Homo sapiens: one gene and its partners. The protein of the gene in region 3 interacts with the protein of the main gene of each other region in a pairwise test. Each region holds a gene or a part of one and is shown on either strand. Other genes may lie near its edges.

Evidence for each region.
Region 1: the proteins of AGAP1 (region 3) and GUCY1A1 interact in a two-hybrid assay, tested with the Homo sapiens proteins (one study listed by BioGRID).
Region 2: the proteins of AGAP1 (region 3) and ZNF534 interact in binary tests that used the Homo sapiens proteins (3 or more experiments, as listed by UniProt).

The regions. Positions count from the first base shown.
Region 1 is NC_000004.12:155,664,953-155,668,698, forward strand, and holds the start of GUCY1A1 (guanylate cyclase soluble subunit alpha-1), read left to right. Parts: upstream 1-1,895; 5' UTR 1,896-2,013; exon of another isoform or gene 2,014-2,268; intron 2,269-2,385; exon of another isoform or gene 2,386-2,393; 5' UTR 2,394-2,467; intron 2,468-2,709; exon of another isoform or gene 2,710-2,901; coding exon of another isoform or gene 2,902-3,070; intron 3,071-3,137; exon of another isoform or gene 3,138-3,637; intron 3,638-3,746.
Region 2 is NC_000019.10:52,426,961-52,430,706, forward strand, and holds the start of ZNF534 (zinc finger protein 534), read left to right. Parts: upstream 1-2,187; 5' UTR 2,188-2,284; intron 2,285-3,746. UniProt on the Homo sapiens protein: May be involved in transcriptional regulation.
Region 3 is NC_000002.12:235,492,463-235,496,208, forward strand, and holds the start of AGAP1 (arf-GAP with GTPase, ANK repeat and PH domain-containing protein 1), read left to right. Parts: upstream 1-1,580; 5' UTR 1,581-2,224; coding exon 2,225-2,387; intron 2,388-3,746. UniProt on the Homo sapiens protein: GTPase-activating protein for ARF1 and, to a lesser extent, ARF5. Directly and specifically regulates the adapter protein 3 (AP-3)-dependent trafficking of proteins in the endosomal-lysosomal system.

The DNA of each region.
Region 1 (3,746 bases), on a different chromosome or scaffold from region 3:
TGGAGGAAAGTAGGTTTTAACCCATAAGTCAACTATAAGAAAGAAGATTGGACCTGGAAGATGATGAAATATTCAGGTATTCATTTATCCACTCAGCAGGCATTTTAGTGAATCCCGTTATGAACCATTTTCATTACTAGGAAATTAGGCTGTGAAGATTAGTATTTCCCTAACAACAAGGAACTCTTGTTACTTTTTTAGAGCATATCAAACATCCAGATTACAGAATGTCTTTTGCAGTCACCTTTTGGTGGTTCTAGCCACCCTTATGTTTAGATTGGTTGCTTCCTCTTCTTACCCATTGTCTGACAGTCAGAAAGGATAGAGGAGGAAGAAGACAAGACACTATCCAGTTGAGAGTCTACTCTTAGTAAAACTCGGTAGCTCCTGGCAGAATGTACTGGGGTCAAATGCAATACTAATCAAGGAGTTTGGTGTGCCATAAAACTTGAGAATGGTAAAAGTAGAAATTAATGGGTTAAACAAGTCATTTTCCAGAATGAAAGGAATATTGGTAATGGTATCAACAGACGAGGACAACAGCAACAACAAAGTCTTTATACAAGCCTGCAACACGTGACAACTGCGGATCAGGCATCTGAACCCGGCCTATCTTTCCACCGTATCTTCCTACACTTTTCTTTATGTACTTTTTATTTCTACCAGATGGTATTACTCCTTGTTTCTTGAATAACAGTGTCATGCCTTTCCAACCTCTGTATGTTTGCTCACAAGTTTCCCTCTGTCAGAGAAAAGCAAAAACAACAAAAAAGTCCTCTATTTTATCTTTTTCCAAACATAACCAATCCTTCAAGTCCTATCTCTAGTACTGTTCCTTTATGAACCCTGTCAGACAATATCTCATTTTCTTCTGAATGTTCATAGCATTTACTTAAAAATAGTATGACTTCCCTCTTCTTTTTACTAATGAATTACTGTGTATTTTTTAAGTTTCCTTCTACATCTGAAGTTCTAAATATTCTTAGTACAAATGTCCTACTGATCTAAGAGAGTATCATGGGTTAAATGTAGAGGAAGAGAAGTTTCTGAGATGGCAGGAAGGCAAAAGTTTCTGTGACTACCTGTGCTTATATTGCTGACTTTCTTAACTGTTCCTGACTTATTTAAATGTATTTTTTTCCTGATTCTGATTAATGTTCACTATGAGGCAAGCACAGTAGGCAAGACTGGGAGAAAGTTTGCAAATGTGATGAGCTTACAAATGGGACCAGATTAGATGGTGTACTTGGGGGAGATATAAAAGAGGAAGATAACCATGAATTGAACTGAATTGAAAATGGATCACATAAAGATCATGATTAATTGTTAATTCACAATGGAACAGCATGATGGGATTTTTTTAAGTCAGAAAGGTGACTAAAAGCATAATATCACAACACACACAACGGTAACAAATATAACTAAATGCACTGAACCAGGCAGAAGCCAGACCTTACTGAAAAGATGTAAAATCTCTGTAACCATAAAACTGCATCTGCAAATGAGTAGATTGGCTTCAAATCTGAAAACCAGGACAAGAGAGTCATCAGCGCAGATGTCAACTTCCCCAGCAGAAATGTTGGAGTTTTTAACTGTGGAAAACTACAGTTTTTCCACACCAGTGCATAGTGGAGAAGACATGTTTTTGTTTTTCTTTTTAAGTGTGCCAAATTTTCCTGGAGTCCCCTCCAATTTTTTTCTTTCTCTCTCTCTCTCTCTTTTTTTTTTTTTGTCCCCTGCCCCTAGGTCTCTGTCTCCACACAGTGATTTCTGTTATGGCGATTGGGCGGCTGCAGAGACCAGGACTCAGTTCCCCTGCCCTAGTCTGAGCCTAGTGGGTGGGACTCAGCTCAGAGTCAGTTTTCCAGAAGCAGGTTTCAGTGCAGAGTTTTCCTACACTTTTCCTGCGCTAGAGCAGCGAGCAGCCTGGAACAGACCCAGGCGGAGGACACCTGTGGGGGAGGGAGCGCCTGGAGGAGCTTAGAGACCCCAGCCGGGCGTGATCTCACCATGGTGCGTTTTGGCTGCTACTTTCTTTTTCAGTCTTTCGGTGCGGAGAAGGGGAGGAGGCGGGCAGAGGTCTGAAAAAATCGAATGCCTTATGGAAAGGAACTGCAAGGGTTCCTTTGGGGTGATCAAAGAGGGAGACACAGACACAGAGAGACAAAGGCAAGGAGGACTGTCTGGGAGCCACGCGGGCGATACAGTTTCCGAGGCACGCCGCGTCCCGCCTAGCCTGTTGAACAGGTAGACATGAGCGACCCAAGCGTAAGTGCCGCTGCCGCGAGTGCCCAGGGTGCACTCGCGCGGGGACCGACAGGTGCCACTGCAGGGTCCCCTCTCCCGCTCACTGCCTGCCACCCCTGACGCCTGCTCTCTTTCTCCATTCGCAGTGCGGATTTGCGAGGCGCGCCCTGGAGCTGCTAGAGATCCGGAAGCACAGCCCCGAGGTGTGCGAAGCCACCAAGTAAGTGGTCGCTGCATCCCCACGCGGGTCGGGGTTCTTCAGACAGGCGGTCCCTCTTCCGGGACCCCCGCTTGGGCTGGGTCTCCTTCCTCTCCTGAGAAACCTTCGGTACGCTCCCAGTTGCCCAGCCCTGGGAAGCCAGCATCGGGTTCCCACGCTGGGGAGGAGCGAGAGGAAAGGAGAGGACGCCCGAGGGGCCGGCCCAGGGCCCGGGGGACCCGCGGCGCCCGAGGGAGGAGCACAGACGGGGGTGGGCGCCGAGCAGCGCCGCGCCGGCTGCTGAGCTCGCGGGGCCGGGCCGTGAGAACGCGCGGGGCGCGCCGGGGCCGCTGGTCTCCCACGGCCAGGGCGCCTGGGCCCCAGAGCCCATCAGCCGCGTGCAGCGCTGCGGCCTCCGGCGCGCCGGCAGGCAAGCGAGCGGGCGCAGCTGGGGGATGCCTGGACCCCGGAGGCAGCAGGGCTGGAGGCGGTGGCGGGCTTCAGGGCAACTTCACCCGGCCGGCTGCGGCGTGGGTAAGAGGCGCGTCCTCCTCCACAGCAAAAGCTGCGATCGCTGGGCTGCCCAGAGAAGGCAGCCGGCTAACTGCCCAGCGGCTCCACGAGGTGTGCGCGTGTGTGCGAGAGAGACAAATGATTTACTGCTTAGCAGTCCCATTTCTGTTTTCGTTAGGACTGCGGCTCTTGGAGAAAGCGTGAGCAGGGGGCCACCGCGGTCTCCGCGCCTGTCTGCACCCTGTCGCCTGAGCTGCCTGACAGTGACAATGGTGTGAGGGGCTGCGTTGCAATGTGGTCATGTGATTTCAGGCTATGGATTTCGTGCGTCTTTCTCTGCTCACTGATTTTCACATGGTTATTCTTTCATTTTGCACTCGATAAACAGTTTACATCTTCTGAAGTAAGCCAGAAGATTGTATGGCTCACTTAACGATGACTGGTTGAAGGCATCTTGATTTGGAACCTATGGAAACAGTGCTGAGTTTTAAATAGGACAGATTTTTTTTTCTTTCATTTGAACTTCATTTATAACATATCAATAGTGATGTTTTAGGATCAGTTCTCCTATGGTAATTTCACTAAATGCCTATTTAATGAATTGATTTGATTTCATACATCTCTACCACTTACTAGAACTGTCTTTGTACAAACGTCAAACTTTCCTGTTACATATGGGTAAGCATAGAAGCACTTGATATAATTTTTTTTTATCTTGGTTCAGAGTGTAGAAGTGGTCTGTTGCTTTTCCTAAAATTGCTATACATATTTTTTCTTTAAGAGTGAT
Region 2 (3,746 bases), on a different chromosome or scaffold from region 3:
AGGTACAGCCAGTTGCATTTCACTAGGCTCAAGAGGATTGCTGCCTCAAGCAGGATAACCAGGCCTGCCTGGAACAGTGCCATAGTCCGGGATCCCAGTGACCTGGGTGAGAAGTTGCTATTCAGGTCAAAGAAAATTTCTTCAGGTGACCCCACTGTCTCTAGCCAATAGTCCTGCTTGTGGATCTTACGTATTTGTGTTTCAAAACTACCTGAGGTCCTGATGTGGGGTCCTTACCTCCTGTGCACAGTGACTCATGCCTGTAATTTGAGTACTTTGGGAGTGTAGACAGAAGGAAAACTTGAGGCCAGAACTTGGACACCCGGCTGGGCAACAAAGTGAGACTCCATCTCTACAAAGTAATAATAATATATAAAACTAAAAAATTAGCACAGTCCAATGTCACAGGCCTGTACTTCCAGCTACTCGGGAGACTGAGGTAGGAGGTGCCCATGACCCCAGGAAGTCAAGGTTGTAGTGAGCTATGATTGTGCCACTGCACTCCAGCCTGGATGTCACAGGTTGATTCCCTGTCTTTAAAAAAAAAAAAAAAGTCTTAAACTAAATAATTTATACCTATTTTTAAAGTTATTGGCTTTTTTAAAAAGAGTTGGTGACCTGACTTCACACTGACCTTAGTCCTCTATGCCCAAGGTGGTGTCCCTAGGAAAGTTTCTGGAATTGAGCACAGGGTTGACCTCACCCTCTGGAGTGAATGGGGAATGTAAATGAAAAGTATTTCTAGCCGGGCGCGGTGGCTCACGCCTGTAATCCCAGCACTTAGGGAGGCTGAGGCGGGCGGATCATGAGGTCGGGAGATCGAGACTACGGTGAAACCCAGTCTCTACTAAAAATACAAAAAAAATTAGCCAGGCATGGTGGCGGGTGCCTGTAGTACCAGCTACTCGGGAGGCTGAGGCAGGAGAATGGTGTGAACCCGGGAGGCGAAGCTTGCGGTGAGCCGAGATTGTGCCACTGCACTCCAGCCTGGACGACAGAGCAAGACTCCATCTCAAAAAAAAAAAAAAAAGTATTTCTATTCTATGGGGCATTGGCATGATACTGCGCATTCCACTCTGGCAGGGTTTAGCATTTCACACTTTAGCTTCCATCCCCTTCACAGATAGTTCCAAAGTGTCTTAATTCCTAAAATTTGTCTTTCTGGCTGGGCATAGTGGCTCACGCCTGTAATCCCAACACTCTGGGAGGCCGAGGCGGGCAGATCACCTGAGGTCAGAAGTTCAAGACCAGCCTGGCCATGGTGAAACCCCGTCTCTACTAAAAATACAACAAATTAGTCGGGTGTGGTGGTGCGCACCTGTAATCCCAGCTACTCGGGAGGCTGAGGCAGGAGAATCACTTGAACCTGGGAGGCATAGGTTGCAGTGAGCCGAGATCTCATCATTGAGCTTCAGCCTGGGCAACGAGCGAAACTCTCAAACAAACAAACAAACAAAAAAAATGTCTTTCTTTCGTTCTTTCTTGTCTCTCCCTTTTTCTCACACACAGGCACAGACACCTACATTCTTTTCTTTGTTGCACTATTTCTCTCTAGTCTTATTTTCTTTCTTTCTTTTCTTTTTTTTTTTTTTTTTTGAGACGGAGTCTCACTCCATCGCCAGGCTGGAGTGTAGTGGTACGATTTCGGCTCACTGCAACCCTGCCTCCCGGGTTCAAGTGATTCTCCTGCCTCAGCCTCCCGAGTAGCTGGGACTACAGGCGCCCACCACCACACCCAGCTAATTTTTGTGTTTTTAGTAGAGACGGGGGTTTCATCATGTTGGCCAGGATGGTCTCGATCTCCTGACCTCGTGATCCGCCCGGCTTGGCCTCCCAAAGTGCTGGGATTACAGGAGTGAGCCACCGCACCCGGCCTTGTCTTTCTTTTTGCTTTCTTTTCACGCTCTCTTCTCTCTCTGCTTCCAGAGTAGTTGGGACTTAAAATTTATTGTAATAACAGGAATTCTCGTGGATCTAATCTAATCACCAACCGATTTTGCTCTGCCCCAGCAAGATCTGTTTACAGATCTGTTTACAGAAGTGCTGAGCAGATCTCGCCTCCAAAACCCTAAAACAGGATCGCTGAGTCAGACTGACAGAAGCATAGACCCCGCCTTGAGCCCGCCCTGTCCCGGCCCTGCCCTCGGCCCCGGGCCCGGCCTGTACGATGCGCGCGCAATTTCCTGCAGACCCGGAAGTCGAGATCATGGAGTGAACGTTTCGCGCGCTTTTTCCTGTAGACCCGGCACCCGACTGCGCGGAAAGACTGTCTAAGCCGCCACTCGTGAGTTTGCCTTTGTCTAGATTAAATTTAGGCTGCCCAGTTCCTGTGTGCTTCTACACCCGCGATCTGAGGGCTCATGCAGACCTTGAAGTCCCGGCACCGCTCTATCCACTCCAAGTAAATTCAGACATTCTCTAGAGAGTCTGGAGGTCGCTTACCTGCGTGTTAAAACCGCTTGGAGGCTTCTAGGCCGGGCGCGGTGCCTCACGCCTGTAATCCTGGCACTTTGCTATTTTTTTTTCATTTTTTGTAATTATTCAGTCTAGTTGATTGAATCCATTGATGTGTACCCCAGAGATACCAAGGGCTGACTTTAGACTGTATCTGCTCGTTAGTCACTTAATAGTCTTTTTTTTTTTTTTTTTCCTGAGACTGAGTTTTGCTCTTGTTGCCCAGGCTGGAGTGCAATGGCGTGATCTCGGCTCACTGCAAACTCCGCCTCCCGGATTCAAGCGATTCTCCCGCCTGGGCCTCCCGAGTAGCTGGGATTACAGGCATACGCCACCATGCCTCTCTAATTTTGTATTTTTAGTAGAGATGGGGTTTCACCATGTTGGCCAGGCTGGTCTCGAACTCCTGACCTCAGGTGATCTGCCCGCCTCATCCTTTCAAAGTGCTGGGATTACAGGCATGAGCCACCGTACTTGGCCAATAGTCTTTTGGATGAGATCCACTTTTATGGTATCTCAGTGCTTTTTTTTCATGTAACCCTTTTTTTTTTCCCTTAACAATGCCCTCCAGGCACATGAGTATTGATTGATGCTGACAATTTTTTTTTTGGGTTTTTTTGAGACAGAGTCTCACTCTGACGCCAAGGCTGGAGTGCAGTGGCACTGTGTTGGCTGACTGCAACCTCTGTCTCCTGGGTTCAAGCAATTCTCCTGCCTCAGTCTCCCGAGTAGCTGGGATTACAGGTGTCCACCACCACGGCCGGCTAGTTTTTATATTTTTAGTACAGACAGGGTTTGACCATGTTGGCCAGGCTGGTCTTGAACTCCTGACCTCAGGTGATCCACCTGCCTCGGCCTCCCAAAGTGCTGGGATTACAGGCGTGAGCCACTGCGCCCGGCCTTGATGCTGACAATTTGGATATGCCAGTGAGAAGCTGTAACATGGAGTCTTTAAGGGGAATTAATAGGGTTTAGTACTGATGGAGGTTTCAGGCATCCATTGGGGCTCTTGGAACATAGTGCACATCGATAAAAGGATTCTACTATAGTCTATATCTAGAATTGAGCACTGTGATCCACAGAGGGCTGAGGGGCCTGTGCTCTGCATGAGCTTTGGTCAGGGTGAGGTCTGTGCTTTTTTTTTGTTTTTTTTTGAGATAGAGTCGCACTCTGTCACCCAGGCTGGAGTGCAGTGTTAAAATCTTGGCTCACTGCAACCTCTGTCTCCTGGGTTCAAGCAATTCTCCTGCCTCAGCCTCCTAAGAGCTGGGATTATAGGTGCCTGCCATTAC
Region 3 (3,746 bases):
TTCAGCTGGCGACATGCTGGACTTAAACACCAGCTAGGCTTCAGGAAATGTTGAGGATGCAGGTGGATGTGAATTTGTTATTCAGGGGTGAGGTCACAGCTGGAGATACATATGAGCTTCATTAACCTGTGTATGATATTCAAAGCCATAAGACAGGGGCGATCACAGCAAATAGCAAAGAAAAGAGGCCTAACCATAAGCCCTGGGGCCCTCCATATTTAGAGGTTAGGGGAGTAGAAGAAAACCACAAAAGGGACAGTGAAGCCAGAAACACAGCAGGAAGCCCTGGTGAGCACTGGGAGAAGGGGTTTCCAGGAGCGCAAGTGATCAGCTGCTGCTGATAGGTCAGGTTTGGTGAGGCCACATGCCTGCCTCTTGGTTACTAGAGTTACTTATGCGTGGACAGCCCGAGGCATGGAGTGATGACCTGTGCCTAAGTGTCAAGGAGAAGACAAGCAGGTCCGGAATGGTAAAAATGTCAGCACATCTTTGGGAAGTTGTGGAGCCCAGCCAGTAAGCCAACACGGCTGGATACCAGGGTGCTTAGGCCATAGCAAACTGCATGTGAGCCGGTGAAGGCTCAGCAGGCTTTAAACGGGGATGCCGGCCCGGCTGGCTGAGTTTCAGAAAGACCACGCCGATGGCTGGGGGCAGGGACTCAGCCAGTGTCCTCAATCCAGGACCTTGTGGGACCGCCCGGCAGCCAGTGCTTCCGCAAATCTGAAGGGTCCCATTTGCCTCAAAGCGGCGAGACGAGCCTTCCAAGCGCTGCTGCAGTGCGGTCCCAGCTCCGCGGGGGGTCCCCGGGGATGACCTAAATCGGGGATTGCGGTGGGACAGACGGTCCAGGGGCTAAGGAACCCCGTGGAGCAGGCAGCGGCGCTCAGGAGGCAGCAGCTTGAGATCCACGGCTCGATTTTTAAAAATTGTAAGGGAGAAGGATGCCTCGAAAGCCTCTGTGGTATTTTGTCGCATCTCGCACCCCTGTCTAAACTTCAGTCCACTCGTGGAGTGTGGACCCCCACGCCGCATGGGCTCAGGAGGCGCTTCGCCTTTGGAAAGAAATCGCATGTATTAAGGGAAAGCACGTGTGCTACTTTGAGAAAGGAGGCAGAAAGTTACCAAACGCGGGAAGGGGAGGCTCGCCAACCAAGCGAGGCCGTGGGACACTGGCGAGTCGCAGAGGCTCCTGGAGCCAGCCGCTTGGAAACAAACAACAACGCGGCGGGCGAACTCCCGGGCAGCCTCCCCCGTGCCGGGGCGCGGGGGCCGCCGCGAGAACCCGGGCAGGAGCTGGCAGGCGCGGGGCCTGGCCGGCGGGAGGGTCCCGCACCCCGGCCCAGTGTGAACACCCCGCGCACCCCCCTGGCCCGGCCCGCCGGGGGCGCGGACTACAAGTCCCAGGAAGCCCAGAGGCAGGCGCGGGGCGGGGCCTGGCGCAATTCCCCGGGATCCGGCGCGCTGGGAAGCGCCGAGGAGGACGCAGCGCCGGCGGCCGGAGGGCGGCAAGCGCGCGGGCAGGCGGGGCGCGGGCGCGGGCGCGGGCGAGGGCGAAGGCGGGGGCGGGGCCGACGTGGGCCGGAGCCCTGCGTGCCAGGGAGGGGGCCGGCCGGGCAGGCGGCGGGCGGCGCTCGGAGCGGGCTCCGCGGCTTGCAAGGCGCCTGCGACTCGGTCCCAGGTCGGCGGGCGGCGCACGGCGGGCTCGCGCGGGGGCCCCGGCGCGCCGGGCGGCGCAGTACGCAGCGCGCGGACCCACGCCACGGCCAGGAGCCCAGAGCAGCGCGGCCACACTGCCCAGGGGTCGGCCCTCGGCCCCGGCGCTCGGAGCGCGGCGGCTGCCTGGGCTTTAATGGCTGCTCCGCGGAGCAGCGCCTAGGGCTGGAAGGCGGCTGCGGCTCAGGAAGTCACCCGAGCAAGCCTCCTTCGGGGCCGGCCGCACCCGCCGCGGCGCGCTCCATGGGGGCGCGCTCCCCCCGGGCGGCCCGCTGACCCGGGACGCCGGGGCCCGCTCGCTCGCCGGCCGCGCGTCCCGGCCATGAACTGAGCCCGCGGGCCAGCCCCGCGCCTGCTCCGCCCGCGCCTTTCTTCTCGCGCCTCCTCCGCCCGCCGCCGGCGGGCCCGGCTCCCCGGGGGCTGCGGCGCCCCGGGCTCGGCGGCCCGCGGGCCCCGGGGCGCGGGGCGGCGGCGGCGGGGGGCGCGCGGCTCCGGGCGCGGCGCCTGCACCATGAACTACCAGCAGCAGCTGGCCAACTCGGCTGCCATCCGGGCCGAGATCCAGCGCTTCGAGTCGGTCCACCCCAACATCTACTCCATCTACGAGCTGCTGGAGCGCGTGGAGGAGCCGGTGCTGCAGAACCAGATCCGGGAGCACGTCATCGCCATCGAAGGTGAGGGCCGGGCCGCCTTGGGGCCTCGGGAAGGCACGGACGCCCGCGGCGCGGCGGGGGTGTGCGCTGTGTGCGTGCGGGTGTCCACACACGCCGGCCGGGGCACGCGGCTGCTCCGCCGAGGGAGCACTGCGGCGCTGCTTGTCTTGCAAGGCCGGGCGAGCGTCGCCTGCGCCCCGCCGCGCCGCGAGCTCCGCCAGGAAGATAGATCGTCAGCGTTAATTTGATCGTGGACAATAGAGTCTCTCCTGCGGGAAAGTGGCTCGGTGCCTCCGCGTCCTGGGCTGCCGGAGCGTCCCGGCCCAGCAGACGCCTGGGGGCAGCCGGCGGGGTCGGCGCCACCCGACCCCTGACAGGTTACCAGGCCAGGCCTGGGCGTCTTGCTGGACGTTGAAGACGTGTTCTGAGAAGTGCTGCCGCTGGGGGCGAGGCCCGGGCCGGCGTGTTTGGGCGGTGCAGGGCTGCCCTCCTTAGTGTGTTTGCTTAATTCAGGGGTGCAGTTGAACTTAGTGGATGCCGAGAGCCAGCCCTAGCCGCGGGAGCATCGTGTCCAGGTGCCCCTGTGCAAACGCTGGAACCGGTAGTGTGCTTTGTACCAACCAAAAGTCCGGGGTTGGATTAGAGGAAGAACCCTACCAGGAGGGCAGGGCGTCCTCCAGCGGAAGGGTCTCGCTTTCATATGTCTGCAGTTGGAGGCCACTGAAGTGGAGGGTGCTGTGGTTTTAAGAGGGGCAGGATGCTTGGGCAGAATCCCCACCCGCTTCCCTCTGCATGTCAGGCAGGGCCATGGCCTTCCAGGAGAGCTACAGCAGCAGTCTGCCTTCCGGGGCTGTGCCCTCTGGATTTCTGGTGGCTCTCATTTCTCTGTTTCCAGGCTGCTGATTTATTTTCTTGCTTCATCCCTTTGGTCCGGCCAAGACTCACCTGGGGCACCAGGTGGCATGTGCGTGGACAGTGTGGAGTCATATCTTAGCCACAGTTGATCAGCACTTTCTCCCTTCTCAGCGCTGTTGGCCAGTGATGGTAAAAAGCCTGCAGAGTGGCTTGTCCATAATACAGACTGGCCGGTAAGACCTCTATTGAGGAACATTGAGAATGGCCCAAAGCCGGCAGGAATGTGCCTGAAAGCCTGGTGCTGGCGTTGCCCAGCCTCCTCCCTCTGTGAGGGAGAGGGTATCAGCCCACAGAGAGGCTTTGCCTTGGCACTATGTAGTCTGAACTACTAACCCCGAAGTGCTTTGGTTTGAAACTTGGCCAGTTAGGTGGAGAAAGTGGATGTTGTGTTGCTGAGCCCTTGGCATTTGGCAGCCCTGTAGACTTGAACCATGTCCCAGCCAGGCTGGATGACTGGCAGACTAT